Regions from separate parts of the Homo sapiens genome. Here regions 1 and 3 are each linked to region 2. The links come from fine-mapping of genetic effects on gene expression. A gene starts in region 2. Each other region holds a variant in brackets. All regions are shown on one strand. Distances are from middle to middle.

The links. PIP is the estimated chance that this variant, and not a neighbour inherited with it, causes the effect.
Region 1: its variant is fine-mapped to the expression of SRP54 in whole blood (TOPMed, PIP above 0.99).
Region 3: its variant is fine-mapped to the expression of SRP54 in subcutaneous fat (GTEx, PIP 0.97).

What each region holds. Positions count from the first base shown.
Region 1 is chr14:34,927,859-34,937,901 of GRCh38, reverse strand. The region is part of intron 2 of SRP54-AS1 (SRP54 antisense RNA 1); the gene reads left to right. Among named protein-coding and RNA genes, the nearest start is that of SRP54-AS1, 50 kb to the left of the region's middle. The variant C/T (reference allele first, on the strand shown) is at 4,729.
Region 2 is chr14:34,977,071-34,987,113 of GRCh38, reverse strand. SRP54 (signal recognition particle 54) reads right to left here and starts at 4,122. Exons shown (of 16, transcript NM_003136.4): 1 at 3,899-4,122. It overlaps SRP54-AS1 (SRP54 antisense RNA 1), which reads left to right and starts at 4,548. Exons shown (of 5, transcript NR_151701.1): 1 at 4,548-4,690. RefSeq lists enhancers at 3,652-3,911, 3,942-4,441, 4,622-4,711, 4,102-4,803, 4,922-4,971 and a silencer at 5,857-6,151.
Region 3 is chr14:35,316,003-35,326,045 of GRCh38, reverse strand. PSMA6 (proteasome 20S subunit alpha 6) reads right to left here. Exons shown (of 7, transcript NM_002791.3): 7 at 8,553-8,797. The coding sequence ends at 8,740. PRORP-PSMA6 (PRORP-PSMA6 readthrough) reads right to left here. Exons shown (of 15, transcript NR_182666.1): 15 at 8,575-8,797. Among named protein-coding and RNA genes, the nearest start is that of PSMA6, 29 kb to the right of the region's middle. The variant A/C (reference allele first, on the strand shown) is at 4,785.

The DNA.
Region 1 (10,043 bases), 49 kb after region 2:
AAGTGCTGGGATTGCAGGCGTGAGCCACAAAACCCAGCCACCGCCCTGGTCTTTCAAAGCACTGGGATTACAGGTGAGCCTTAATTTAGAGATAGTATTTCCCTTCAGAGCAGATATCAGACTTGTTTACTTTCCTGTATAATAAAGTTAATGTCTCCCTCCAGAGCAAAGACCTTGCAGGTTTAAAAGTTGTCATTCAGAACTAAGGGGAGTTCCGTGGCGCCTCTGGCCTGGCCTCCCCTTTCTTGTCTGACTCGAGACACCAACTGAGTTCCTGTTTCTAGTAGCTAAGCTCCCACCGTCGGGGAGGAATCAGGGACTGTGCAGTCCCTGTGAATCCCATCCAGGTCAGTTCTAGATTCTAAACTGAATTTTTTTCATGATATTGTCAAAACAGTGAGGAAACGTTTTGTAAAGAAGCCCTAAAGAAAAAAAAAGTCATTGAGCCTTCCTAAACAATTTTCTCTTAATATATGTATTCTAAGACTTTTTAATGTATATACTATATTAGAAATCCAATTCTCTTGTAGATGTCTCTTTTTTTTAATAAAAACTTTTTTTTTTTCACATTTTCCTGCCTCTATCTAGTATGTGGAACTTAACTGAACTTAGAAGGGACTTCAGAACTATTTATTTATTTATTTATTGAGACAGAGTTTTGCTCTTGTTGCTCAGGCTGGAGTGCAATGGCTCAATCTCAGCTCACCGCAACCTCTGCCTCCCGGGTTCAAGCGATTCTCCTGAGTAGCTGGGATTACAGGCAAGCATCACCACGCCCGGTTAATTTTTTGTATTTTTAGTAGAGACAGGGTTTCTCCATGTTGGTCAGGCTGGTCTCGAACTCCTGACCTCAGGTGATCTGCCTGCCTCGGCCTCCCAAAGTGCTGGGATTACAGGCACAAGCCACCACACCCAGCCCTGTAGATTTCTCATTGAGGGCACAAACATTTATTTCCATCTCCTGTGTAACTATTCATAAACTTAAAGATGATTACTAAAGCAACTTTCACCTTCCTCAGGTTAAATAAGCAATGTGCCTTTAAACTTTCCACATAAATTCTGTTTTCTAATTTTTGTTGTTGTTGTTGTTGCTATTTTGTGTTTTCTAATTTTTAATCCTTTGGTTAATCATGCCTCTGGATTTTTTCCCATTTTCTTCATCTCTTGAATTTAGAGCCCAGGATCTGATACAATACCCTAGTAAAGGGTTAATTCCTATTGCATAGATTTTCGATACCTGCCACAGACTTGAGGGCAGGTTGAGGGCAGATACTGTTTTATACTTTTCTAGTATCAGTAACTTTCTAGCATATGTAGGTGCTCAGTAAATTCTTACTGATTGATTGGTGTATCCCAGAATTGTTTTTGAGTTGTAAATCACAGTACCACTTTGCTGATTCATGTTTAATGTTTGCTTCACTATAAAAATTGTTTGTAAAGTAAAAAACAGCAAGGAACTCTACAAGTGGTGAACAATGGCTATAAATCATAGAACCATCTTTGTTTTTGTGAAAAGTATTCTTACTTCAATTAGCAGTCTTTCTATTCCCGACCACCTATCCCAAAGGAATCATCATCAATAATGCCATCTCTGCATACAAAAGATATTCTTTAATTACGATGCTTAGCTGAGTTAGCATTTTTACTTTTTTTCCTTTTTCTATTCTTTTTTTTTTTTTTTTTTTTTTTTTTTTTTTTTTTTTTTTGAGACGGAGTCTCGCTCTGTCTCCCAGGCTGGAGTGCAGTGGCGCGATCTCTGCTCGCTGCAAGCTCCGCCTCCCGGGTTCACGCCATTCTCCTGCCTCAGCCTCCCGAGTAGCTGGGACTACCGGCACCCGCCACCACGCCCAGCTAATTTTTTTTTAATTTTTAGTAGAAACAGGGTTTCTCCGTGTTAGCCAGGATGGTCTCGATCTCTTGACCTCGTGATCCGCCCACCTCGGCCTCCCAAAGTGCTAGGATTACAGGCGTGAGCCACCGTGCCCGGCCTATTCTTTTTTTTTTTTTTTTTTTTTTTTTTTAGTAGCACTTGTTGTTGAAGCATTTTTACTTTTTGTATTTCCTTCTTTCTGAGTTACTGTGGTAGGCTGCATCTAAAATGACTCCTAAGCACCGTACCTTCTGGTTTTCACATCCTTGTGTAATTTCCTCCTCTTGTGCTTGGGCCGGACCTAATGACCTCTTTCAAAAGAATAGAATATGGCAAAGTGACAGAATGTCACATCTGAGATTAGGTTACAAAAGACTGTGACTTTCATCTTCCTCTCTCTCTTGCGCTCTCACTTGCTCATTCCAATGTAGGAAATTGCCATGTTGCAATTTCCAAAGGATAGGTCACAATCCAAAGGATAGGTCCATATGGCAGAAAAACGGAGGGTAGCCTCTAGTCAACAGCCAGTGAGGAACGGAGGCCCTGAGTGCAACACCCTGATAGGGACTAAGTCCTACCAACATCAACACCTAGTCAAGCCTTAAGATGACTGCAGCACCCGCTCAACACCTTTTATACAGCCTTATGAGAAACCCAGAGCCAAGAGACCCAACTAAGCTTTGCCTAGCTTCCTTACTCATAGACTCTGTAAGAAAATAATTGTTTATTGCTTTAAGGCACCAAGTTTGGGGGTAATTTTTCATACAGCAAGAGATAACTAATATAGATTCTGTTTGATAAATATTAACTTACACCTAACTCAGATTTCACTCAAAGAAATTAATATGCATGTGAGAAGATATATTCTTTACCCAGCCACGGGAGGTATTGCCTAGGAAAAACTTAGATAGTTGCCAACCGATTGTATCATAATCTCACTTCTGAGTTTAGAAATTAATATTAAAGGACTGTAGTTTCCAGTCAGACTTTTCCATTTAAAAACCATGAGCTTCTATTTTTACAAGTCATAGGTACTTAATTAGTTCTCCACTATTCTGTAAAATAATACACTCCTAGTTCTGTGATAACTCTGGTCAATTCTAGAAATAAGTATTCGTTAGTACAAATTACCAGAGCCTGTGGATTTGAATGTATCAATCTGTTTTATTAAGCAGGCCCCATTTTGTGAAACTCAGCTGGAAAACGACAGTCAACCTGACAATTCTCATAGATAGTTAATTTAAGAAATTCTTCTTCTTCTTCTTCTTTTTTTTTTTTTTTTTTTTTGATAGAGGGTCTTACTCTATTGCCCAGGCTGGAGTGCAGCGGCACAATCATGTCTCACTGCAGCCTCAGCCTCCGGAATAGCTGGGACTGCAGGTGCACACCACGATGCCCAGCTAATTTTTTTTTTTTTTTTTTTTTTTGAGACGGAGTGTCGCTCTGTCGCCCAGAGTGGAGTACAGTGGCTCCATCTCGGTTCACTGCAAGCTCCACCCGCTGGGCTCACGCCATTCTCCTGCCTCAGCCTCCCGAGTAGCTGGGAATACAGGCGCCTGCCACTACGCCCAGCTAATTTTTGTATATTTAGTAGAGACGGGGTTTCACCGTGTTAGCCAGGATGGTCTCGATCTCCTGACCTCGTGATCCACCTGCCTCGGCCTCCCAAAGTGCTGGGATTACAGATGTGAGCCACGGCGCCCGGCCGCCCAGCTAATTTTTAAATTTTTTTTGTAGAAACAGAGTTTCACGAAGTTGCCCAGGCTGGTCTCAAACTCCTGGGCTCGAGCAGTTTGCCCACCCCAGCCTCCCAAAGTGCTAGGATTACAGGTGTGAGCCACCACACTTGGCTAATTTTCTTTTTCTTTTTCTTTCTTTTTTTTTTTTTTTTTTGAGACAGTCTCACTCTGTCACCTGGCTGGAGTTTAGTGACACGATCTTAGCTCCCTGCAACCTCTGCCTCCTGAGTTCAAGTGATTCTCCTACCTCAGCCTCCTGAGTAGCTGGAATTACAGGTACACACCACCACGCCCAGCTAATTTTTGTATTTTTAGCAGAGACAGCGTTTCGCCATGTTGGCCTCTATCTCTTGACCTTGTGATCCACCCACCGCAGCCTCCCAAAGAGCTGGGATTACAGGCGTGAGCCACCATGCCCAGCCTAATTTTTTATTTTTTGTGAAGATGGGGTCTCTGTTGCCTGGGCTGGTCTCAAACTCCAGGGCTCAAGTGATCCTCCAGTCTCAGCCTCCCAAAGTGCTGAGATTACAGGCATGAGCCCCTGTGCCCACCCAAAAAATTATTCTTAAGCTGGTGAGTACATAAATGTTTCTTTATTATTTTTTAAATCTATATATATGTTTTATGAAGTTTTTGTTATGTGTAATACATTTCATAATAAAAACAAGGTTTAAAAAAAACAAGCTTTCTGACTTGTTCTGATATTTAAGATTTTGGTAAAAAGTTTTAAGTTTTAAAGAGTGCATATGGGCTGGTCCGAGTGCAGTGGTTTATGACTAATTAATCACAACCAGTTCCAGATTTCTTTGTTCTTTCTCTACTCCCACTGCTTCACTTGGCTAGCCTTTAGTAAATAAATAAATAAATAGAGTGCCTATGGTAGTTAACCAAAAAAAGAGTGTTTTCTAAGCTTCCATTAAGTCTATCATACACTATCATTAATTCCCCTAAGACTGTGTCAAGTTACCTATTTACAAAGATCGATTGCTCAGATCCTTCAAAGTTCATGAATCCTTTAGTTTTGGATGATAAAGAGTGAAAAAACAAAAGTTAAAGAGAAGCCCACAGAACCAGAGAAAAAAAGAAGTTGCCTTCTTTCTCATCCTTCATAAACACCTG[C/T]CCACACAGGTTGATGTCCTTTTTCAAATATTTAGTCAGACCCCAAGCACTACCTTTGACCCTGGTATTACAAGTCCCACTCTGCCTTTACTACTCATATCTGAACTTTTAATATCTAATTACAATATTCAGTGAACTGATATTACATGCTACCATTTTTAAGTTTGGAATTAAACTTGGAATTATGTTGACAAATCTGGTTTGTTTTAGAACTTAATACGATTTAGAACTTTTGTTTATTATGTTTTATAAATTAAATGCCATTTTTTACCTTTTAAAATTATCTTCCTATTTTATTCATTCAGCAAATATTTATATACCTATAGTAAAAGTATATAAACCTGATATATAGTAATATATCCAGAAATGTTCAGGATAGAAATGCAGTAGTGAACAGACAAGCAAGCTTGTAGTCTTTAAATAAATTACCAACTGTAATGCTGTTTGACATTATGTTTTTAAATAATGCATAACCTATTGTTATCAGGGAGTTATACATACCTATGTATTACCATATATCTTCCAATATAGGCTTGTAATAAAGTCAGTATACTCACGTTCTCTTTTCTAAGCATGTCTTAACAGGTTAAACCACACAACCGTGATATTTGTATATTATATAATTAACATCTTAAATAACAGCTTTGAAATTTCTTTTTTTTTTTTTTTTTTTTTTTTTTTTTTTTTGAGACGGAGTCTCGCTGTCACCCAGGCTGGAGTGCAGTGGCGCGATCTGGGCTCACTGCAAGCTCCACCTCCCGGGTTCACGCCATTCTCCTGCCTCAGCCTCCCCAGTAGCTGGGACTACAGGCGCCCGCCACCACGCCCAGCTAATTTTTTGTATTTTTAGTAGAGGTGGGGTTTCACCGTGTTAGCCAGGATGGTCTCGATCTCCTGACCTCGTGATCCGCCCGCCTCGGCCTCCCAAAGTGCTGGGATTACAGGCGTGAGCCACCGCGCCCGGCCTGAAATTTCTTAGTGATAGATTGCACTGCACTAAAATTTGAGACAGGGCCAGGCATGGTAGCTCACCCCTATAATCCCAGCACTTTGGGAGGCCAAGGTGGGCGGATCACCTGAGGTCAGGAGTTTGAGACGAGCCTGGCCAACATGACAAAACCCTATCTCTACTAAAAATACAAAAATTAGCCTGGCATGGTGGCACACACCTGTAATCCCTGCTACTCAGGAGGCTGAGGCAGGAGAATCACTTGAACCAAGGGCGGAGATTGCAGTGAGCCGAGATTGCACCACTGCATTCCAGCCTGGACGACAGAGCAAGACTCTGTCTCAAAAAATAAATAAATAAAAATTGAGGCAGATACACTTCGTATCATACACATTAAAACAGGAAAGGATTAACCCTCATCACACATATACTCAAATCAAAGTTAATACCACTTGGTTTTCTTTTTATTTGTTTTAGTAAAAATTAGACAGTTTACAATTAAAGAAACTATCTTTGAGAACCTGATCTTTCAGTCTATGGATATTTAATGAAAATAATGAAATTAGTTATCACCTTTGAAGAGGGGAGGATTCAGGGAAGAAAAACCAGTACCATCCATCTGTAATAGATTGCTTAATTGAAGATATTTAGCAAAAGCACACTGAAGACTAATAGAATTGCCCAAAGGTTTTTCTCCTCTTTGATCTACATATTGTGTCTCACATGACACAAGTGTGACACACCACCTCAAAAACAAACTTGCCCTTTCCATTCAAATACCAAACTGGCCAAGTAGGGTGGATAGAGTGCTGTGTCTCCTTCCTGGTACAGTGTGCCAGCAAGGAAAGTCTCTGTTATATAACTTCCTGCATCTTCAAAACAAAACAAGACTTCACGTAAGAGATATTACCACCCCTAGAAAAGTTCCACCCATCAGAATAGGAAATCCTCATCTGTTGCTGACAGCAGTGTCACAAAGGCCTTAAAAATGTTTAAATACCTTGACTAAACAGTTCAGTTTCTAAAAACTTAAGAAAATAATCGGATATTTGCAAAATGATTTCTGTATGATGGTTTACTACAGTGTTGTTTTATAATGGTAGTAAATTGGAAACCACCTAAACGTCCAGTAGCTGGAGATTGATTAGGTATAGGACATCCATATCCACTCCAGCCTGGGTGACAGAGCGAGACCTTGTCTTAACAAAAAAAAAAAAAAAAAAAAAAAAAAAAGTAGACAGCTGCAACTTTGGATGGCCAAAGGGCTGGCAGTGATAGGAACAGCTACTTCAATAAAGAGAACAGAAAACTGAAAGCTGTAAATTACACATTTTCTATTCTGTGCTTTGCTTTCCGGGAAGTCACATGTTCATTAGACTCCTTTTTATTTAAAAACTAGGTAATACTTCTTTCCCACCTTATAATTACCTCCCAAAATACAGTCAACACAATGCTGTGCTTTGGCTACTTTGGCTAAGAATAATCCCAAATCAGCATTTTAAACCAACAGTATCAGACCAGATCAAGAGAGGTAAACTGATGTGTTCCAGCTCTCTGTTATGACCAAGCAGGAAGTTTCCGAGCAAACCTCCACTTCTCAGGAAGTTTACGTCAAACTTAGTATTTACATCCTGTTGAATATAGTCTTAATTTTTTTCTCAATTCTAGATACTATTTGAATTAAAATGTTGGAGTAATCTGTCCTCAAATTGTTTTTTTTTAACTCTCAATAGACTATGTATATCTGTTCTAAGTGACACATGGAATACCTCCATGACTAATAGTGACAAAAGTTAAAGATTGTTTTTAGAATTAAGTACCTATAATTATAACTATTTATATCCCTATACATTATCTCTTATTCATTTGATCTCTCAAGTAGGTCCTTGTTAGCTATGTTCTGATTAACTCATTATGCAGTTAGTATACTATATGCAAACAAATAAAACCCTCAGTGGAGCATCCTGATGTTTCTCTCCAGGACTGACCGTGTAATATTGACGTGGGAAAGGTGACACGATGCTGAGTCTGATACTTCTAGCAGCTGGCTGTATGACTTTGGCTAAGGCCCTTAACCTGCAGTTTTCTCACCTGAAAATAAGAGGGGTGGGTTAAATGATCTTTAGTATATCTTCTGTGATCGTACTATGCAGGAGTGCCAATCTGTATCTTACATACAGTAAAGTCATACTTCATTATGTTTGTTTGTTTGTCTTTTGAGACAGGGTCTCACTCTGTCACCAGGCTGGAGTGCAGTGGTACAATCATGGCTCACTGCAGCCTCAACCTCCCAGGCTCAAGCGATCCTCCCACCTCAGCCTACCAAGTAGTGGGGACCACAGGTGCATGCCAGCTAATTTTTTTTTTTTAAGAGATGATGTCTCCTTGTTGCCCAGGCTGATCTCAAACTCCTGGACTCAAGCAATCCTCCTATCTCTGCCTACCAAAGTGCTAGAATTATAGGCTTAAGCCACTGCTCCTGGCGCTGATCTCAAACTCCTGGACTCAAGCAATCCTCCTATCTCTGCCTACCAAAGTGCTAGAATTATAGGCTTAAGCCACTGCTCCTGGCGTCATACTTCTTAAATTAAAAAAAAAGGCATATTCTAAGTGTAAGCCGTAGGACAAAAACTGTGCATCTTTGTAGTAGGTGTGCTAGTTAGGATTATGGTTGGAAGTAATAGAAATCTGAATGGATCTTGCTTAGATAATGAGGTGAATGTATTTTAAACACATAAAGGGTCTCACAGAACCCAAGGACACAAATTGAACTGGACATAAGGAGCCAGGAAGGTGAATGTCAAAGAGACTCTGTCTCATGTGTCCTCCTCCCTTTGTACATCAGCATCATTCCACCTTCTCTCTGTCCATCAGGTTCTTCTGCTTCCCTGAACCACAAGGTGGAAAATAGCTGCTGGCAGCTCTTCAGTTTACAAATTACAGTGTGGACACAGGAAAAGAAATGGCTGTTTCTCAGTCCAAATGCCATGTCTCAGGAAAAGGCTCCAACCGGCCCACATTGGGGCAGATGTCCATCCCAGGACTTATCAACTGTCATCTATATTTGGGACAACCTCTATTGAAAATGATGATTTTCACTTCAATTCTGAGGAGTAGGCAGGAAAGGGAAACTTTTAGAAGGAGGATATAAGTAGAAAATCTAGGCTGGGGCCAGGCACGGTGGCTCATGCCTGTAATCCCAGCACTTTGGGAGGCCGAGGTGGGCGGATCACGAGGTCAGGAGTTCGAGACCAGCCTGACCAACATGGTGAAACCCTGTCTCTACTAAAAATAGAAAAATTAGCTGGGCGTGGTGGCATGTGCCTGTAATCCCAGCTACTCGGGAGGCTGAGGCAAGAGAATCACTTGAACCCATGAGACGGAGGTTGCAGTGGCCGAGATGGCGCCACTGCACTCCAGCTGGGGCAACAGAAGACAGAGTGAGGCTCCGTTTCCAAAAAAAAAAAAAAAAAGAAAGAAAATCTAGGCTGGGCATGGTGGCTCACGTCTGTAATCCCAGCACTTTGGGAGGCCAAGGCAGGTGGATCACAAAGTCAGGAGATCAAGACGATCCTGGCTAACACAGTGAAACCCCATCTCTACTAAAAATACAAAAAATTAGCTGGGCGTGGTGGCATGTGCCTTTAGTCCCAGCTACTTGGGAGGCTGAGGCAGGAGAATCACTTGAACCTGGGAGGTGGAGGTTGCAGTGAGCCAAGATTGTGCCACTGCACTCCAGCCTGGGCAACAGAGCCAGACTTCATCTCAAAAAAAAAAAAAAAAGAAAAAAGAAAAGAAAATCTAATTGGGGTTCACACACTAAAATATCAGTGTTAATAGTATTTTTACATTTGGAAATAATTATAGATTCACAGGAGGTTGAAAAATTAGTGCAGAGAGGTTCTCTGTACCCTTCACCCAGTTTCTCCTAATGGTCAGGTCTTACATAATTATAGTGCAATATCAGTTGTAAATTTTTTATTGAGACAGTTGATTTTCATATTCTTTCCCGTTTATTATAGCACATGTGCCTCACTCTTCATGGTAAATGTTTTACTGAAGAATAACATACAGAAAAGTGGACAAGTCTTAACTGCACAGCTCAATGAATTTCCATGAAGTAAATATACCCATATGATAATCCAGCTCAAGAAACAGAAAATCACTACCACCCCAGAAGACTGCCTTATACTACCATCTTTTAAGAGTGAATCACACATGGGGTACTCCTTGTATCTGGCCTCTTTCTTTTTTTCTTTCTTTTTAATTATTATTTTTGTTTGAGATGGAGTCTCATTCTGTCACCCAGGCTAGAGTGCAGTGTCATGATCTCGGCTCACTGTAACCTCTGCCTCCCGGGTTCAAG
Region 2 (10,043 bases):
GACTACATGGAGTGCCACCATGCTCGGCTAATTTTTTGTATTTTTAGTAGAGATGGGGTTTCACCTTGTTAGCCAGGATGCTCTGGATCTCCTGACCTTGTGATCTGCCTGCCTTGGCCTCCCAAAGTGTTGGGACAGGCTTAAGCCACCGCACCCAGCCAAGAATTATATTTTAATAAACTGTTAAAATAACATTTGTTATCTCTGGATGATGAATAACTAGCAATTTTTTTTTTTTGAGACAGAGTCTCACTCTGTGCCCACTGGAGTGCAGTGGCACAATCTCGGCTCACTGCAACCTCTGCCCTCCGAGTTCAAGCGATTCTCCTGCCTTGGCCTCCCAAGTAGCTGGGATTACAGGTGCCTGCCACCACACCCAGCTAATTTTTTATATTTGTAGTAGAGATGGGTTTTCACTATCTTGGCCAGGCTGGTCTTGAACTCCTGACATCATGATCCACCCGCCTCAGCCTCCCAAAGTGCTGGGATTACAGGCGTGAGCCACCACGACCAGCAATTTTTATTTTCTTATATCTTTTTCTAATTTCCAATTTTTTAGTAATGACTGAGAACACTATTTTTTAAGTCAAGGGAAAATTATTTTCCAAAGCGTTCCTTGTGAGAATTAGAGTGCAACTAGTCAACAGACTAGAGGTTGGGATGGAGCTGCCACTTGTATTCATTTACTCATTCATTAAACACCTACTATGTACTCCAGAAATTGTCCCAGCATGAGAGAAGTTCTAATTCCTAATCAAATATAACAGTTTAACACAAGACTCCCTTCAAAAGATAAATTATGCATCATACCACCTCTGTCTTAACTTAGCACCAAAGATTATATTCAATTATATCAAGAAGTATCAAGCAACTTTCTCTTCATTAAAGTAATTGTTTTTCAAATTTTAAAACTCATTTTATGTAAAATAATATCACAGCACCAATTCGTACTTTTGCAGCAAAAAAGGTATACCAAAAAAAAAGTCAATTAGCAACAAGAGGTAATAACTCAGGAACACTGGGAATCATTTCTTTACGATACTTTCTGGCTATGAGGTCAACCATAAAAAGAATCTTTACATAAAATGCTACCAAGAAGAAAATTAAAACGAAAATCAAAAGAATTCCTTGGAAAGTTGGCCTTAACATTGAAAAGAAAAAGGAAAAGTGAAAAATAAAAAAGGAAAAGGAGGGATAAGAGGCATATGCTCAAGCAATGCGTTATTTCAATGACATTTAGATAATGCCTATCAGTAAAAATTAAATGCTCAATCAGACTCTCCAGAGATAGTAAGGTAAAAAAGTTTTAGGGGGAGTAGCTTCATCTAAATTCTTAATCTGGAGTGCAAAACAAGACATTTATGTTTTGAAAACTTTCACTAGCTATATTGATGTGCAGCAAGGGTTCATAATCACTATATTAAGTATTTAATAACATGTCCCAAAGAAAACAACAGAATGAGAAATCTGTTCTATACCTTAGAAACATCTTTAGATACAGTGTAACAAATACATTGGAGGGAAAAAACTGAAGAGCCAGGACACTACATGCACTACCCATACTCCATAAGGCTAGTTGAGACAAGATGTGGCCTTGAACTAGAGAAAAAGAAACTAGGGTTAAGGGCTAATTCATGAAGCAGAATCTAATGACCAAATGGTTATGGCAAGTGAAGGAAAAAAGAGGCAAAAATGATTCCAATATCTCTAGTTTTTATAACCAGATGGCTAGTGATGCCATTAACCAATGAATGGAAGGCAAAAAGGGAAGGTGGTTTGAAAGTCAGAGGAGTTAATAGAGAAGAGGTCAAAGGGACTTAATGTATTATTTTTAATGTTTCACTTTTTATGAAGGATGTGTACATAGATGTTCATTTCATTATCCCTCCAACTAGCTGGGACTACAGGCGGCGCCACTAAGCCTGGCTAATTTTTGTCTCTTTTGTTGAGACAGGGAGTTTCGCCATGTTACCCAAGCTGGTCTCGAACTCTTGAGCTAAAGCAATCTGCCAGCCTCAGCCTCCCAAAGTATTGGGATTACAGGCGTGAGCCATTGCTCACAGCCCTTATAATCCTTTTAAAAATTTAACCTACTTGTATCACAAAATTCAACCAGAGGTCAAAACTCAAAAACGCACTGACAATCACTGCTTTTATACACTTTCGTATGCATGACATATGTCATAGTGAAAAAAAAAAAAAAAAGGAAGGTGAAGACAGTGCATTTGGTTTTGGACCTAATGAGTTTGCAAGTTTTAGGGGAAAGTACAGAACTATCAACTCATGAGATGGAGGCTAAAGAATAAGGTTTAGGCAGGGCATGGTGGCTCACACCTGTAATCCCAGCACTTTGGGAGGCCGAAGCAGGCGGATCACTTCAGGTCAGGAGTTCAAGACCAACCTGGCCAACATGGTGGAACCCCATCTCTACTAAAAACACAAAAATTAGCTGGGCGTGGTGGCAGGCACCTGTAATCCCAGCTACTCGGAAGGCTGAGGCAGGAGAATTGCTTGAACCTGGGAGGCGGAGGTTGCAGTGAGCCGAGATGGTGCCTCGGTACTCCAGTCTGGGCGACAGAGCAAATAAGGTTTGGAAAAGAACAAGGTTTGGAAATGAAAAGAATAAGGTTTGGACATGGTTGGCATATAGGGACAATGCCATGGAAGCAAGCGAGAAGCCTCGAGGAGAGCCTGTGGAAGACCATTTGGGTTATAGCAATGACTGAGGGCCAACTAAAAGGACGGCGTTAACCAAGACTGAAAATAACCAAAGAGATAGGAGCTTTTACTAATTCCCTTTCCCTTTCTCCATGGCACATAGGAGAAAATCAATTTTTAAAAAGCTACATTTATGGTTATCTTACTGTAATCCTGTGGCAGGTCCAGAATTTCCAAATAGATGGGGACAGAGGAGTAATCTGGAAGGAAGACTTGAAGATGCTTTTGCATAGTACTCTATATTAAGGTAGAAAATACCAGTTGGCCATATCAAAAAACTGAGAAAAAGCGATTTGAGGGAAATATTTCCCTCCCCTTTGGCACCACGATTGCTGTATTCTAGGCACTAAACCAAACCAAACCTCTTACCTAATCTCCTTTCTTCCTCAAAACAAGCCTATTAAGTAGATGAGGAAATTGAGGCTAGATTGGAATAGAAACTGGCTCAGGGTCACAAAGCACCTAAGGAGCACTTTAGCTCTCCCACAGCTTTCTACAGCTCTTTATATGCAACTAGTGTTTCTCATTACCCATCTTGATATAATGTGTATTTATGTGCGTTAGCTTCTCAATGGCAGAGTTAGTGTTATTCATTTCTGTATCCTTGTAGCCAAGAACAAGTATATATTTTGTTAAATTAAGCATGTGAAAGAATCAGGTGAGGATAGCATGAAGAAAGGCAGCAGGGGAAAGTTTCAAGAAATGGATGGTCAGCAGCGTCAAATGGTACAGAGAGAGCTATCAGTCTATCTTAAATCATCATTGGCATTCAACTGATATTCCATATTCGTTTATTGAACGTCTACTACACGCAGGACATTGTGTTAAGCACTACAAACACATAGGAAAAATAAAAGTCTCGTACAAGTAAAAGGATTTTCGGGGAAGTAGCTTCATCTAAATTCTTGCTCAGGAAAGCAAAACGAAGACTCAGGCCTGCAACTGCCTACATCTTATTTGGCTCAGGTAAATCGGAAGACAACTCAAAAGGGGCACAGCGCATCTTTAATAAAACTTCTCATGGAAGACGAGATAAAGAGCCACAGAAACTCAGTCTCGGTAACGATGGCCGGTGGCCACGGAGGCCGACTTCCCCCGGAGTCTCTCGCCTCCTGAGCAGCGCTGGGGCTGCCCCTCGCTCCCCCTCCGTAGTCTGGGGCGGGAAAAAGCAGACACTTACCGCAAAAGACACCGCTAAAGCCGTGGCCCTGAGGGGCCGGGAATTCCTTAGCGAGGCCCCACGCCGTCGGAAGAAACCCAAGAAAGCTGGGAGCAGACAGACAGGTATGACCCCACAACCCAACTTCCCGAACTAGATAAAGTAGGGTCCCAACGCCCAGCACCACGTCGTCAACTCCCACCAGCTGGAAGACCAACGGAGTGCCAGCGAACCTTCCGCCCAATGAGGAAACGTCACCACTCCGCGTAGTCCAGCCTTTCTATAGGAGAATCTACTTCCGCTTCCGGGGCACACCGCCGCGTTCCTTCTACGCGGCTCCTGAAACAGTTTAGATGTTTACTTGCTTACACTGGTTTTTGGTTTCAGTTTCCTACCGCTGAATAACTGCAGGAGTAAAGTTAGTGGTAAAATAGGAGGCTGTCTAGGGACGTGATTTCGGGGAAGAAGTCAGGCCTCGACGAGCCACCTTAAGAAAAGTGACTAGGCGGAGCACTCCCAGCTAAGAGCGGAAAGATGAGAGATAGAGGTGTGACTGAAGGCAGGGATCCCCAGGCGCACGTGAGACCTCCGTAGAGGGGCGGGGCTTAGGGCTTTGCAGACCGGAGGCTTGTTCCGCGGAGGGTGGGGCGGTCTCTGCTTGCGCATGCGCAATGCCAGCCAGTGCCTGCGCGGCTTGCTCCAGCAAGGTAAAATTTCCCACTGCGAGGCAGGCAGTGATGCTGCGGCCGCTTCGCACTGTGGCTCCTGCCGACCGCCAGGCGCTGTTACAGTGGATGCGAACTAACCGTAAGTGTAAGTGACCAGAGCTAGAGGCAGGTGGTGGGGGCAAGGATATGCTGCAGGCGCTGACTTTGAGGACTTAAGCGGGGTGAAGCCAACAGCCTTCCTTGGGATCGTTGTGCTGGTCTCTGCTGTCTTGGGGGGTAGATTGACCAGGGCTTTGAGTGCTCTAACGGAAAAGAGAGTTAGTTGCTCGCCACACGTAGACACCAATTAACAAGAGCGAGCCCTAGTATACAAGAAGAGGGATTTTATTTCTGAAGCCAGCCCGCTTCGTCTTTGGAGCAAAAAAGCGGGCATTTTATAAGGTACAAGAGGAAATGAGCAAGAGGTCTCTGCTAGCTGGTGCCTTATCTACCGGGTAGTTGAGTTGGTGCATTTCTGAGCAGAAATAAGTTGTAAAAGTGGCCAAGTGGGCATGCTTTCTGCTTACCCTTCTGAGGCGACCGCCTGGCGGTGGGAGTTGCGTCTTGGATCTCGTAGATGAATTTGCTCTGTAGAGAATGGTCTGGTGAGGGGAGTTGAGAGGTTATTTTGCAGTTCAAAAAGGGCTAAGTGGAAAGTGTAGTGGGGAGGGGAAAAGAGGGGAAAAAATAAACTATCTCTTGGAAAATGGGGGTAATCGGATACAGTACCACTTGGAATTAATTGGGTGTGGGAAACCTGGTTCTGAGTGGTTTGTGAGTTTTCAGCAGACTTCGGACAAGCCTTTAGAGCTCCTTGTGCCTAACCCTTTTTCTGAAAGAAAATAGAGGGTTAGCCCTCCTCCCCATTACTCCCACAAACTTGTTAGAATTGGTACGTTGCCACCTGAAAAAGCATTTTGCAGGAGAGGTTTTAGGCTGTAGCGTTAGTAGGAAGTGTTAAACGAAAAACCTTAGCCAAGTTAAATTTAACATTTTGAGCAAAGAATGATTCACGAATCGGGCAGGCTCAGAGAGATTGCAGCGCAGCCAAGTGTTGAAGATTTATAGACAGAAAAAGGCTGCAGTGAGCTTTGATCCCGCTGCTTCACTCCAGCCTGAGCGACGCAAGACCCTGTCTCTTTAAACACACACGTTAAAACTGAGGAAATGTGGTAGCTAGATCTAGTTACTGAAAAATGGGATAGATGTATTCTGGCAAAGTAAAGCCTGATGAAAGCTCAAGAAAATAGGATATTCTTATGTTTGTTAACTATAGCAAACTATCCTATGCCTGTATGCGAGAGTGTGTGTGTGTGTGTGTGTGTGTGTGTGTGTGTGTGTGTGTATGTGTGTGTATTTATTTTTTGAGACAGAGTTTCACTCTTGTTGCCCAGGCGGGGCTGCAGTGGCGCCATCCAGCTCACTGCAACCTCCACCTCCCTGATTCGAGCGATTTTGAGTGGCTGGGATTACAGGCGTCCGCCACCACGCCCGGCTCATTTTTGTATTTGTAGTAGAGACGGAGTTTCACCATGTTTCCCAGGCTGGTCCCAAACTGCTGACCTCAGGTGATCTTCCTGCCTGGGCCTCCCAGAGTGCTGGGATTGCAGGCGTGAGCCACCACGCCTGGCCACTATGCCTGTATTTTGCTGAATGGTGATTTCCATGGTTATTTTTATCCAAGCTCATGACTTGAAATGTCATTGTTAGCTGATGACTTACAATTTTAGATTTTTAACCTCGACCTCTTAAAATTCTTTGTGATGTTAGAGTCAGTAGGTTTAGATATTATAATTAACATTATTACACATTTTAGGAGTCATTTTAGATAAGATGTCAAACTGAAGATAACAGGAACATCTGCTAGTGAGATTTGACCTGGAAAGTATAGAAAACCAGATACACAGCTTTGTTTATTTATTTATTTATTGAGACGGATTCTCAGTCTGTCGCCAGGCTGGAGTGCAGTAGCACGATCTTAGCTCATTGCAACCTCTGCCTTCTGGATTCAAGTGATTCTCCTGCCCCTGGAGTAGCTGGGATTACAGGCACGAACCACCGCGTCCAGCTAATTTTGGTATTTTTAGTAGAGACGGGGTTTTACTATGTTGGCTAGGCTGGTCTTGAACTCCTGACCTCGTGATCTGCCCTCCTCGTCCTCCCAAAGTGCTGGATTACTGGCATGAGCCACCGCACCCAGCCGGATACAGCTTTATTTCTATATACACAAAATCAAGATAATAATTTCCATAATATGCTGAGTCTCCTGTCACTTCATCTAAACCCTATGTTGCACATTTCTTTTTTGTTTTTGTTTTTGTTTTTGAGACGGAGTCTCGCTCTGTCCCCCAGGCTGGAGTGCAGTGGCGCAATCTTGGCTCACTGCAAGCTCCGCCTCCCGGGTTCACGCCATTCTCCTGCCTCAGCCTCCCGAGTAGCTGGGACTACAGGCGCCCGCCACCACGCCCGGCTAATTTTTTGTATTTTTAGTAGAGAGGGGGTTTCACCGTGTTGGCCAGGATGGTCTGGATCTGCTGACCTCGTGATCTGCCCGCCTCCGCCTTCCAAAGTGCTGGGATTACAGGCGTGAGCCACCGTGCTCGGCCGCACATTTCATTCTTCATATCCCATTTGTCAATAAAACAGCACCGATTTACATCTTTTTTTTCACATTCCTCAGCACAAGGTCATTTATTCTAAAAGCACTGAGTGCCTAGAAAGATGTCACATACTGCCTAGAGCTGGCAATTGTAAAATTACTAAAACATCTTTGCCCTCAAGATTTGTTTTGTGGAGCCATTTGCAATCTAAATTTTGATTTTTTTTTTCCTGTGTTTTGTTTGTTTTTGAGATAGGGTCTTTGTCACCCAGGCTGGAGTGCAGTGGCACCATCATAGCTCACTACAGCCTCACACTCTTGGCCTCAAGGGATCCTCCCACCTCAACCTCCTAAAGTGTTCAAATTACAGGCATGAGCCACTGTACCCAGCCTCAAATTTTAGAGATATCAGTTGAGACTCTATTTTTCAAAATCAGGAAGACTTGAAAGAACGTTTTGGATAATTTTGTAAACAAGAGCCAATATCACTGGCTAAAGAATATATTTTTACTTTTTTTTTTTTTTTTTGAGTCAGAGTCTTGCTGTCGCCCAGGCTGGAGTGCAATGGCACGATCTTGGCTCACCGCAACCTCCGCTTCCTGGGTTCAAGCGATTCTCCTGCCTCAGCCTCCTGAGTAGCTGAAACTACAGGCACGTGCCACCACGCCTGGCTAATTTTTTTGTATTTTTAGTGGAGACGGGGTTTCACCGTGTTAGCCAGGATGGTCTCAATCTCCTGACCTCGTGATCTGCCCGCCTCGGTCTTCCGAAGTGCTGGGATTACAAGCGTGAGCCACCGCGCTCGGCCCTATTTTTACTTTTTTTAAAGGTACTTTTTGTTGTTTTTAAAGAAAGGGTCTCACTCTGTCACCCAGGCTGGAGGCTGGTGTGCCGTGACACTGTTATAGCCCACTGCAGCTTTGACCTCCTGGGCTCAAGCAGTCCTCCTACCTCAGCATCCTGAGTACCTGAGTAGCTGGACTATGGTGCAAACCACCACACCCAGCTTTTTTAAATTTCCTGTAGAGACAGTGTCTCACTATGTTGCCCAGGCTGGTCTCAAACTCCTGGCCTCAAGAGATACTCCCACCTTGGCTTCCCAAAGTGCTGGGATTACAGGTGTGAGCCATCGTACCTGATCTAAAGGTACTTCTTGTGCCTCTCTTCAGCAGATCCTGTAGTGAGGAAGCTCAAGCAATTTGTTAAACAATTTAAAAAATAACTTGAGTTTCTGAAGAATGTTTATTAACCCGAATATTTTAAGAAGTGAGGCCGGGCATGTGGCCCACTCCTGTAATCGTAGCACTTTGGGAGGCCGAGGTAGGTGAATTGCCTAAGCTCAGGAATGTGAGACCAGCCTGGGCAACATAGTGAGAACCTGTCTCAAAAAAAAAAAAAAATTAAAAATTAAAAAAAATTTTAAGAAGTGAGAGTATCACTGAACTTAAAATAAAGGAGTATGGTTATTTATAATCCTTAAAAAAAGTAGTGTATTAGTATACCTTCTTTATTGTGGTAAAATATGTATAAAATAAAATTTACCATTTTGACCTTTTTTTTTTTCCTTCAGACAGAGTCTTGCTCTTTGCCCAGGCTAGAGTGCAATGGCACAATCTCGGCTCACTGCAACCTCTGCCTCCCAGGTTCAAGCGATTCTCCTGCCTCAACCTTCTGAGTAGCTGGGATTACAGGCGTGCACCACACCTGGCTAATTTTTGTATTTTTAGTAGAGATGGGGTTTCACCATGTTGGCCAAGCTGGTCTCGAGCACCTGACCTCGTGATCTGCCCACCTCAGCCTCCCAAAGTGCTGGGATTACAGGCGTGAGCCACCACGGCCAGACCATTTTGACCATTTTTTACTGTATAGTTAAGTGGCATTAAATATGTTCACGTTGTTTTGTAAATATCACTATTAATCTCCAGAACTCTTGTCTTCCCAAACTGAAACTCTTAGTATACCTTTTTATGAAGTGGTCTAAGTACAGCACAAAATATTCTTCTAAACAACCATTTTTCATTTTCCTAATTAGATTTCCTTTTGCCTGGGGAAATTTGTTTTTTTTTTTTTTTTTTTTTTGAGACGGAGTCTCGCTCTGTTGCCCAGGCTGGAGTGCAGCCTCCTGAGTAGCTGGGATTACTGGCACATGCCACCAAGTCCGGCTGATTTTTATATTTTTAGTAGAAGTGGGGTTTCACCATGTTGGCCAGGCTGGTCTCGAATTCCTGACCTCAGGTGATACGCCCATCTCGGCCTCCCAAAGTGCTGGGATTACAGGCCTGAGCCACTGTGCCTGGCCTCTCCTATAATTTTTAAATAAATTTTTAAACCTCTGGCATTAAGTCATTTAAATAATGTCTTGCATGACATTTGCCTAGACTTTTAATTTAAATTATAACTCTTCTTGAATTTTTATACCATTTGATGGAATAACAAAAGACAACGCTAGATGTTGAGTATGGCTTTGGTTTTGAGTTTCATAAGAGTTTATTAAAACTAGACAACATGGCTGTGTGCAGTGGCTCACGCCTGTAATCCTGGCACTTTGGGAGGCAAGGCAGGCAGATCACCTGAGGTCAGGAGTTTGAGACCAGCCTGGCCAACATGGTGAAACCCTGTCTCTACTAAAAATACAAAAACAAAAAATTAGCCAGGCATGATGGTGTGCACCTGTAGTCCCAGCTACTCGGGAGGCTGAGGCAAGAGAATTGCTTGAACCCAGGAGGCTGAGGTTGCAGTGAGCCAAGATTGCGCCACTGCACTCCAGCCTGGGCAACAGAGTGAGACGCCATCTCAAAAAAAAAAAGGAAAAAAGAAACATAAAACAAAGGTGGGAGCCTAGATGTTTCTTTGTACAGCT
Region 3 (10,043 bases), 340 kb before region 2:
ATATAAAATTATATTGTTGTATATAAAAATTACTCTGACACAATTCCTCATCTCTAATTACTTCTCTTAGACACATTCTTACAAATGGGTAACTTTTCTTTCTTTCTTTTTTTTTTTTTTTTGGTTCTCGATGCATATTTCCATGTTGCCCTCCAGAAAGATGTTTGTACTTCCACCAGCAAAAGGAGTAGCTAACTTTAATTGTTTTTTTGAGGTGGAGTCTTGCTCTGGCACAGGCTGGAGTGCAATAGCGCAATCTCAGCTCACTGCAAACTCCGCCTCCCGGGTTCAAGTAATTCTCCTACCTCAGCCTCCTGAGTAGCTGGGACTACAGGCACATGCCACCACACCCAGCTATTTTTTATTTTTTAGTAGAGATGGGGATTTCATCATATTGGCCAGGCTGGTCTTGAACTCCTGATCTAGTGATCTGCTCGCCTTGGCCTCCCAAAGTGCTGGGATTACAAGCGTGAGCCACTGAGCATGGCCTGGAGTAGCTAACTTTTAATATACTTCATCACTCCTTCATACAACAAATACTTATGAAACACTTGCAATATACCAAGTATATTATGTGCTATTAATGTAAAAGTCTTAGTAATTTGATAGAAAATATGTTATCTTGTAATTTTCATTTTAAAATTATTGAGTTTTTAGGTTTAGACTAGAAAATTTTCGTGACTTGTCTGTTGTTGTTATATTTTTCTATTTATGTGTTAATATTTTCTCCTATTTGAACTTTGTTTATGGGGTCTTATTAACAAAATTTTACATTTTTAAGTAGTGAAATATATAGATGTTTTCCCTTCATGATTTTTATCCATTGTTATTTTATTTTTTATCATTTATTTATTTTTTGAGATGGAGTTTTGCTGTTGTCACCCAGATTGGAGTGCAATGGTGCAATCTTGGCTCACTGCAACCTCTTCCTCCCAGATTCAAGCGATTCTCCTCCCTCAGCCTTTTGAGTAGCTGGGATTACAGGTGTCCACCATAAGGCCTGGCTAATTTTTTGTATTTTTAGTAGAGACGGGGTTTCAAGGCTGGTCTCGAACTCCTGTTCTCAGCTGATCTGCCCACCTCGGCCTCCCAAAGTGCATTGTTGTTCTTTAGAAAGTGGATCTCCATGTGGAGATCTGTTTTTCAACTAAACTATTTTATTTTCTGTCTCTTTTTCCTTCTTCTAGCTCTTTTTAAATATATATATATTTTTAATTACCTTGTGAAGCCTCTTAGATTTTATTTTGTTGTAAGATGTAAGACAAAGAATATTTTTTCCTACATAGTTATTTTCTCCCTAGAATTATTTTCCCATTGATACGTGGTGCTAATTTTATCATATATTAAATTCTTATATATGCTAAGGTCTGTTGCTTGGCAATTCTAAGTTTTAAAAACACATTTTTTTTTTTTTAGTATTTTGACTAGAATGACTTTAAGTCTACACATTAGTTTGGAAAAGAACTGACTTTACAATAGTCAGCACTTCCATCTAGCAGCAGGAGGTCTCGCAGTCAAGTTTTTTACTTTCCTTCACATGGGTCAATATTTCCAGTTAGAACGATTCCTATCTATATTTTTGTTGCTATTGTGCTGTACTTACATAATTTTCTAAACATTTATTCCTGGTATATAGGAAAGGTATTTACTTTTTATACATTTTTGGGATGGTTGGGAAGGGGGCAATCTGAGAAAAAGTGACTGTAGATTTCGTCTAACATCCTGACAAAGATGCATCTTGAAGTCAGACTATTGTGTGTTCTAGTCCTGTCATTGACACATTGTAGTTGTGTGATCCTGGCCAAATTACTTAACTTGGACTCAGTTTTTGTTTTCGTTTTTGTTTGTTTGTTTTTACCCGCAACAGGGGAATAATAATAGTATAAGTCTATTATTCTTTATCCAAAAGGCATGGGGCCAGGTTCTTTTCTTTCTTTCTTTCTTTTTAAACAGAGTCTCACTCTGTGGCCCAGGCTGGAGTGCAGTGGTGCAATCTTGGCTCACTGCAACCTCTGCCTCCCAGGTTCAAGCGATTCTTGTGCCTCAGCCTCCCGAGTACCTGGGACTACAGGCGTGCGCCACCACGCCTAATTTTTTTTTGTATTTTTAATAGAGACGGGGTTTTGCTATGTTACCCAAGCTGGTCTCGAACTCCTGAGCTCAGGCAATCTGCCCACCTCGGCCTCCCCAGCGAGGATTATAAGCATGAGCCACCACGCCTGGCACAGATGCGTTCGGAATATAATGTATTTTGGATTTTAGAGTGGTAATATGATGTCTAAACCATATATTCCATAACTCTACCACTGGAGTCTGGGGCAGCACCCTATAATTAAGCACATTCATATTTCTGCAGAAATAAAGTGAGATATAAAAAGCCAGTTGAGTTTTAAGAACTTCCTGAATTTTGGAACTGTAGACAAGCAAATTATAAATGTTCAACTTAAACCAGTTTAAAGGATATTGTATCTAAAACAGGGCCTGTCCCAATAAAGACTAATACTTTATTAGGTCACTTTCTTATTTTTTTAGGTAAATAATCTAAATAGTAGATTATAATTCTATCTCCATTCCAATACCTCTTAATTTCATTTCTTATTGTATCAGCTGGAATTTCCAGAATGTAAAATAAATGGAGTTAGAAGCCATCTTGGAGCCAGGTATGGTGGCTGTAATCCCGCCTGTAATTCCAACACTGGGAAGCTGAGGCAGGAGGATGGCTTGAGCCCAGGAGTTGGACACCAGTCTGGGCAACATGGCGAGACCCTGCCTCTACAAAAATAAAACAGGCTTGGCGTGGTGGCTCACGCCTGTAATCCCAGAACTTTGGGAGGCCGAGGCAGGTGGATCACGAGGTTAGGAGTTGGAGACCAGCCTGACCAACATGGTGAAACCTCGTCTCTATTAAAAATACAAAAATTAGCTGGGCGTGGTGGCACGCGCCTGTAATCCCAGCTACTCAGGAGGCTGAGGCAAGAGAATCACTTGAACCTGGGAGCGGAGGTTGCAGCGAGCCGAGATCGTGCCCCTCCACTCCAACCTGGGTGACAGAAGGAGACTCCGTCTCAAAGAATAAAAATAAATAAAAATAAAAAAATTTAAACTAATTCACCATTATGATGTTAATTAGCTTAGCTGTCATTTTAGATTTTTGTTTGTTTTTTTGAGACAGGTGTCTCATTCTGTCCCCCAGACTGGAGTGCAGTGGCGTGACCACAGCTTACTATAGCCTCGACCTCTTGGGCTCAAGTGATCCTCTCACCTCAGCCTCCTGAGTAGCTAGACTACAGGTGTGTGCCCCTACGTGAAGATCCTTAATGTAATAATTTGGTTGTGTCACAAATCTGGATCTTGGATTTGGAGGCTAGTGAGGGAGCTGAGTACCTGGTTTGTTGCTGACTTGTAACCTAAATGGTACAGTAACTGCTTATGAAAAATGAGGTATCAAGAGAAGGAAAGCCTCATGTCTACCCAAATAGCTTCACGTTCATGAATGTCTGGACATATCCTCTGAGTGTCAGAATTATTATATTTCTCATATTTAAAAAATCATATCTGTATTTTTTTTTGAGACAGTCTAGCTCTCTTGCCTAGGCTGAAGTGCAGTGGCGGGATCTCGGCTCACTGCAACCTCTGCCTCCCGGGTTCAAACGATTCTCCTGCCTCAGCCCCCTAAGTAGCTGGGACTACAGGTGTGCGCCCCCATGCCCAGCTAATTTTTGTATTTTTTAGTAGAGATGGGGTTTTACCAAGTTGGCCAGGCTGGTCTCGAGCTTCTGACCTCAAGTGATCCACCCCCCTTGGCCTCCCAGTGCCAGGATTACAGGCATAAGCCACTGTGTTTGGCCTCATATCTGTATTCTTATATTTATTGATTGATTTTTAGATGGAGTCTCACTCTGTTGCCCAGGCTGGAGTACAGTGGTCCGATCTCAGCTCACTGCAACCTTGGCCTCCCGGGTTCAAGTGATTCTCCTGCCGCAGCCTCCTGAGTAGCTGGAATTACAGGTGCACGCCACCACATCTGGCTAATTTTTGTATTTTTGTAGATACTGGGTTTCGCCATGTTGGCCAGGCTGGTCTTGAACTCCTGACCTGAAGTGATCCGCCTGCCTGGGCCTCCCAAAGTGCTGGGATTACAGGCGTGAGCCACTGTGCCTGGTATGTGTATTTCTTACTAATCAAAATGTTCTTTGAGTAAAGATATTTAAAGATTTCAGGCATTTTTCTTGGCATTTTGTATAACCTTTCTGCATTAACCCTTTGTTATCCATTCCAGGTAGTTTGTTTAGAAAACAAAACAAGAAACAGATTGATTGAGACAGAGTTTCACTCTTGTTGCCCAGGCTGGGGTGCAATGGCATGATCTTGGCTCACTGCAACCTCCACCTCCCAGGTTCAAGCGATTCTCCTGCCTCAGCCTCCCGAGTAGCTGGGATTACAGGCATGTGCCACCATGCCCGGCTAATTTTTTTTTAGTATAGACAGGGTTTCGCCATGTTGGTCAGGCTGCTTTTGAACTCCCGATCTCAGGTGATCTGCCTGCCTCAGCCTCCCAAAGTGCTGGGATTACAGGCATGAGCCACTGCGCCCAGCCAGAATTAGAGTATTTAATGTCCACCCTTTTATTTTCATTATTAGAGAAAGGGTCTTGCTTTGCCACCCAGCCTGGAGTACAGTGTTGTGATCATAGTTTACTACAGCCTTGAATTCCTGGGCTCAAGTGACCCTCCCACTTAAGCCTCCCAAGTAGCTAGGACTCCAGGTGTGTGTGCACCACCACA[A/C]TTGACCTAATTTTAAATTTTTCTGTAGAGACAAAATGTTGCCACACTGGTCTTGGGCTCCCAGTGTATTGGGGACTATAGGCATGAGCTACTGTACCCAGCCTAATGTTCACCTATTTAAAATGATCTATTTCTTCTCATTCTTTTAATTAAGCATAAACAACCAATATTTAAAACTATTCTATATTTAATCCTAATTCATCTAGATTTTGCCTTATAATGTAAAAACTTACTTTCTAACAAATTACAGAATTTTAGTTTTTCACCTCTGAAAAGGAGCCCCTAACAGTAAAACTGAATTAGTTGCTAGTCTCTCATCCACTGATTCTAGGAGGGTGACATCAGTCAAGGCTCTAAGGGTGTGGAAATTCAGCTTGTCTTTAGAGGATTAGCCCTTTTACATAGACCCCACTTTCGAAACGATGGCAGCACTTTCAAAGAGCCTAGTGGATTAGGATGGGTAATCCTAGAACAACCTGGAAGAACAAGGAAGAACCCTGCTTCCTTGTTAGGAAATTTTACTATTCCTGACAGCTCTGAAGAGGATGTGGTTGGTGAAGTTTCCTGCTTCTACTGGTCATATGTTTATGTGGCCTCCCCTTGTGTGGCCCTGGTGGCTGCAGAAACAGGGGCAACTCTAATTTCAGGGACTGGCATGAGACCAGCAGCCACACTCACCTGCATGAGGTCAACAGCACCAGACTTCCTCTGTGCAAAAGAGGACACAAAATGTATTACCCTTAGACTTTCCAAGATTTTTTAATCATCTCTAATTAGTGGTTCAGGTCACCAGTCTAGGGACTTTAAAAAATCCTGTACATTAAAAAAAACATAGGCTACAGCTGAGTGCGGTGGCTTACAGCTGTAATCCCAGCACTTTGGGAGGCCGAGCCAGGTGGATCACGAGGTCAGGAGTTCGAGACCAGCCTGGCCAACATGGTGAAACCCCGTCTCTACTAAAAATACAAAAATAATAATAATAATAATAATAATTAGCCGGGCATGGTGCCAGGTGCCTGTAATCCCAGCTACTCAGGAGGCTGAGGCAGTAGAGTCACTTGATCCCGGGAGGTGGAAGTTGCAGTGAGCCAAGATCACGCCACTGCACTCTAGCCTGGACGATAGAGCAAGACTCTGTCTCAAAAAAAAAAAAAAGTTACCATGAATATACAGTTTGTTCTTTCTTCCTGAACATTGTGATGCTGGGTCTCTAAACTTTAATATAAACCAATTCCTTAATGTTATCTTCAAGTACTTATTATTAAGGAGGCACAGAAACTACACACATTCTATGACTTTTCTAGCCCTGTTTCCTGAAGGTAACTAAAATTTCTACCCTTGAAAATACTGGTTCTTAATGAGTATAAATGCTTTTCTCAAAACTATGGAAGATCATACTAATCCTTTTATTATAGTTAAAGCATTCAGTGGGACTTGGAGTCCACATTCAGTAGTATCTTGTTTGAATGAGAAATTGTAAAATAAAGGCCTTTCCTCACATGCCAACTTACGGTCAGGGTGGATTTCTTTTTGGAGACCGGGTCTTACTCTGTCACCCAAGCTTAAGTGCAGTGGCACAATCACAACTCACTGCAGCATCAGACTCCTGGGCTCAAGTGATCCTCTTGCCTTAGCCTCCTGAGTAGCTGGGACTACAGGTGCAGGCTACCATGCCCAGCTAATTAAAAATTTTTTGTAGAGACGAGGTCTTGCTATGTAGTCCAGGCTCATCACAAACTCCCGGCCTCAAGCAATCCTCTCACTTCAGCCTCCCAAAGTGCTGGGATTATAGGTGTGAGCCACAGCGCCCGGCCAGAGTGGGTTTCAAAACCAAAGTTGTAGTTTGTTATTTAATTATACCATATAGCTAGTTTACATTTCTGGCTTTTTTTTTTTTTTTTAAGATGGCATTTCTGTCACCCAGGCTGGAGTGCAGTGGCACAATCTCTGCTTACTGCAACCTCTATCCCCCGAGCTCAAGCAATTCTCCCTCCTCAGTGTCCTAAGTAGCTGGGACCACAGATGTGCATGCTAAGTTTTTATATTTTTGGTAGAGACAGGGTTTCACCTTGTTGCCCAGGCTGGTCTTGAACTCCTGAGCTCAAGTGATCTGCCCGGCTAAGCCTCCCGAAGTGTTGGGGTTACAGGTGTGAGCCAGCACGCCTGGTGCTGGCTATGAAATGTCTTAAGCCAAGTAAACTTGTACCAGTGTCAACAAAATGACTAAAGCTACAATGTGAAGATGGTGAATATTTGTCTGCATATACCAAAGGCTTAATACTTAAAATTGGAGGCAAACCACAATGAGACATCACCTCACTAGTTAGAATAACTATTATCAAAAAGACAAAACATAAGAAGTGTTGAGGATGCAGAGAAAAGGGAACCCTTACAATTAAGGGAAATGTACATGAGTACAGCCATTATGGAAAACAGTATGAACGTTCCTAAAAAAATTAAACAGAATTACTCTATGACCCAACAACTGCACTCCTTGGTATGTATTCAAAGGAAGTGAAATCCGTATGTTGAAGAGGTATCTGCAATCCCATGTTTATTGCAGGACTATACACAATAGCCAAGATATAACTGACTTAAGTGTTCAAAGTGAATGAATGGATAAAGAAAATGTGATATATATACACAAAGGAACACTATTCAGCTATTAAAAAGAATGAAATCCTGTTATTTATAACATGAATGAACCTAGAGGACAATACATTAAGTGAAAATAAGCCAGATACAGAAAGACAAATGCCACATTTTCACTTACATGCCAAGTCTAAAAACGTTGATCTATAAGTAGTGAATAGTACATAGAACAGTGGTTACCAGGGACTGGAGGTGGTAGTGGGAGGGATGGGGAGAAGGTGGTGAACAGCTAAAAAGTTACAATTAGACAGGAGGGGCCCAGTGCAGTGACTTACACCTGTAATCCCAGCACTTTGGGAGCCTGAGATAGGACTGTTCGAGGCCAGGAGTTTAAGACTAGCCTGGGTGACATAGGGAGACCCCTATGTCAATATTTTAAAAGATAAAAAATTAGCCAGGCCTGGTGATGCATGTCTGTAGTCTTAGCTACTTGGGAGGCTAAGGTGGGAGGACTGCTTAACCCCAGGTATTTAAGGTTGCAGTGAGCTATGAGCACGCCTGCCACTGCACTCCAGCCTGGGTGAGATCAAGTACCTGTCTCAAAAAAGAGAAAAAAGGAGTAAGATTTGGTATCCTATTGCACAGCAGAGTGACTACAGTCAACAGTAAGGTACTGTGGACCCAGGCACTGTGGCTCATGCCTGTAACCCCAGCATGTTGGGAGACTGAGGCAGAAGGATCGCTTAATGCTAGCCAGGAGTCTGAGACCAGCCCACGCAACATAGTAAGACCCCAACTCTACAAAAAAATAATAAAATTAGCTGGGTACAATGGTGTACACCTGTAGTACCAGCTACTAAGGAGGCTGAGGTGAGAGGATTACTTAACAAGGGAGTTCAAGGCTGCAGTGAGCCATAATCATGGCACTGCACTCTAGCTTGGGCAATAGAGCAAGATCTTGTTTTAAAAAACAAAAAACTAATAAGGTATTGTGTACCTCAAAATAGCTAGAGGAGAGGATTTTAAATGTTCTCACCACAAAAACACCGTGTTTCAGGTGATGGATATGCTAATCACCCTAATTTGATCATTATAATGTATACATGTATCGAAACATCACATTGCACCCCATAAATATGTACATTAGGTGTCAAAAATAAATTTTAAAATAGGAGGTGAAAACAACAGGATGCAATTATTTTCCAAAAGCCTTGTTTTTATTTATATAGAGTCCTAACCACTTCGGTGGTAGGAGGAGTGGGAGAGGCTCCTTTTTCAATCCAGGGACCTCCATGATGTTGGTTTGTTGTTACCAAACACACAGGTAAGTGGCATCACGGATCTGGTAAACTAACGACAATGTTTAGTCTCTCTCTGCTAGAGCAACAAGGTGAGCATCAATCTCTGCTTCTGTAAGAATCCTAGAAGGCAAAAGGGGGAAAAAAACAACGATTTAAAAAAAATTTTTTCAAACACACGTAAAAGTGGGATAGTATAATAAACTCCCATATACCTATCAACCTACTTTAACAATTATCAATTTATAAACCAATCTTTAAAAAATCTATACACACACTTATCTTCCCTCAGATTATTTTGAAGGAATTCCCAGATATTATACCACCTTCACCTATACACAAAAATGTTTACTTTGACATCAGATTTAGAATTGTATCTTGAAAATAAAATTCTTTAGTTGCAGCTAAGATAGAAAATATTTCAATTGAATAACATAAATAAAGCTAAACTATAAAGTATTCTATTTAGCTTCTATGTCAAAATGCATTTATTTTTTATTTTTTTTGAGACAGAGTCTTGCTCTGTCACCCAGGCTGGAGTGCAGTGGCGTGATCTCGGCTCACTGCAAGCTCTGCCTCCCAGGTTCAAACGATTCTTCTGCCTCAGCCTCCTGAGTAGCTGGGACTACAGGCATGTGCCACTATGCCCAGCTAATTTTTCTATTTTTAGTAGAGATGGGGTTTCACCATATTGGACAGGCTGGTCTGGAACTCCTGACCTCGTGACCCGCCTGCCTCAGCCTCCCAAAGTGCTGGGATTACAGGCGTGAGCCACCTTGCCCAGCCGTCAAAATACATTTATATGTAGTATAACTGAAATTTATGTCAGCTCAAAGATAAAAATTCATGAAGAAATTTTAAGCATATTAAAGTGTTCAGATTCAGAAGTTCATGAAAATAAAGTTATAATTCTATGAATAGTCTACCAGCCAGAGAGTGCTCCATGTTGAACATATATTTCCTTTCTCTTTTTTTTTTTTTTTTTTGAGATGGAGTCTGACCCTGTCGCCCAGGCTGGAGTGCAGTGGCACAATCTTGGCTCACTGCAACCTCCGCCTCCCAGGCTCAAGCAATTCTCCTGCCTCAGCCTCCCAAGCAGCTGGGATTACAGGCGTCCACCACCACATCTGGCTAATTTTTGTATTTTTAGTAGAGATGGGGTTTCACCATGTTGGCCAGGCTGGTCTCAAACTCCTGACCTCAAGTGATCTGTCCACTTTGGCCTCCCAAAGTGCTGGGATTACAGGTGTGAGCCACCATGTGTGGCCCTGAACATGTATTTTCTAAATGATGTTTGCCTCGAAAGGAAGCAATTGTTTGGCAACCTTGTTAATGTGACCTATTACTACTAGACTTCTAAAAAGTGAAA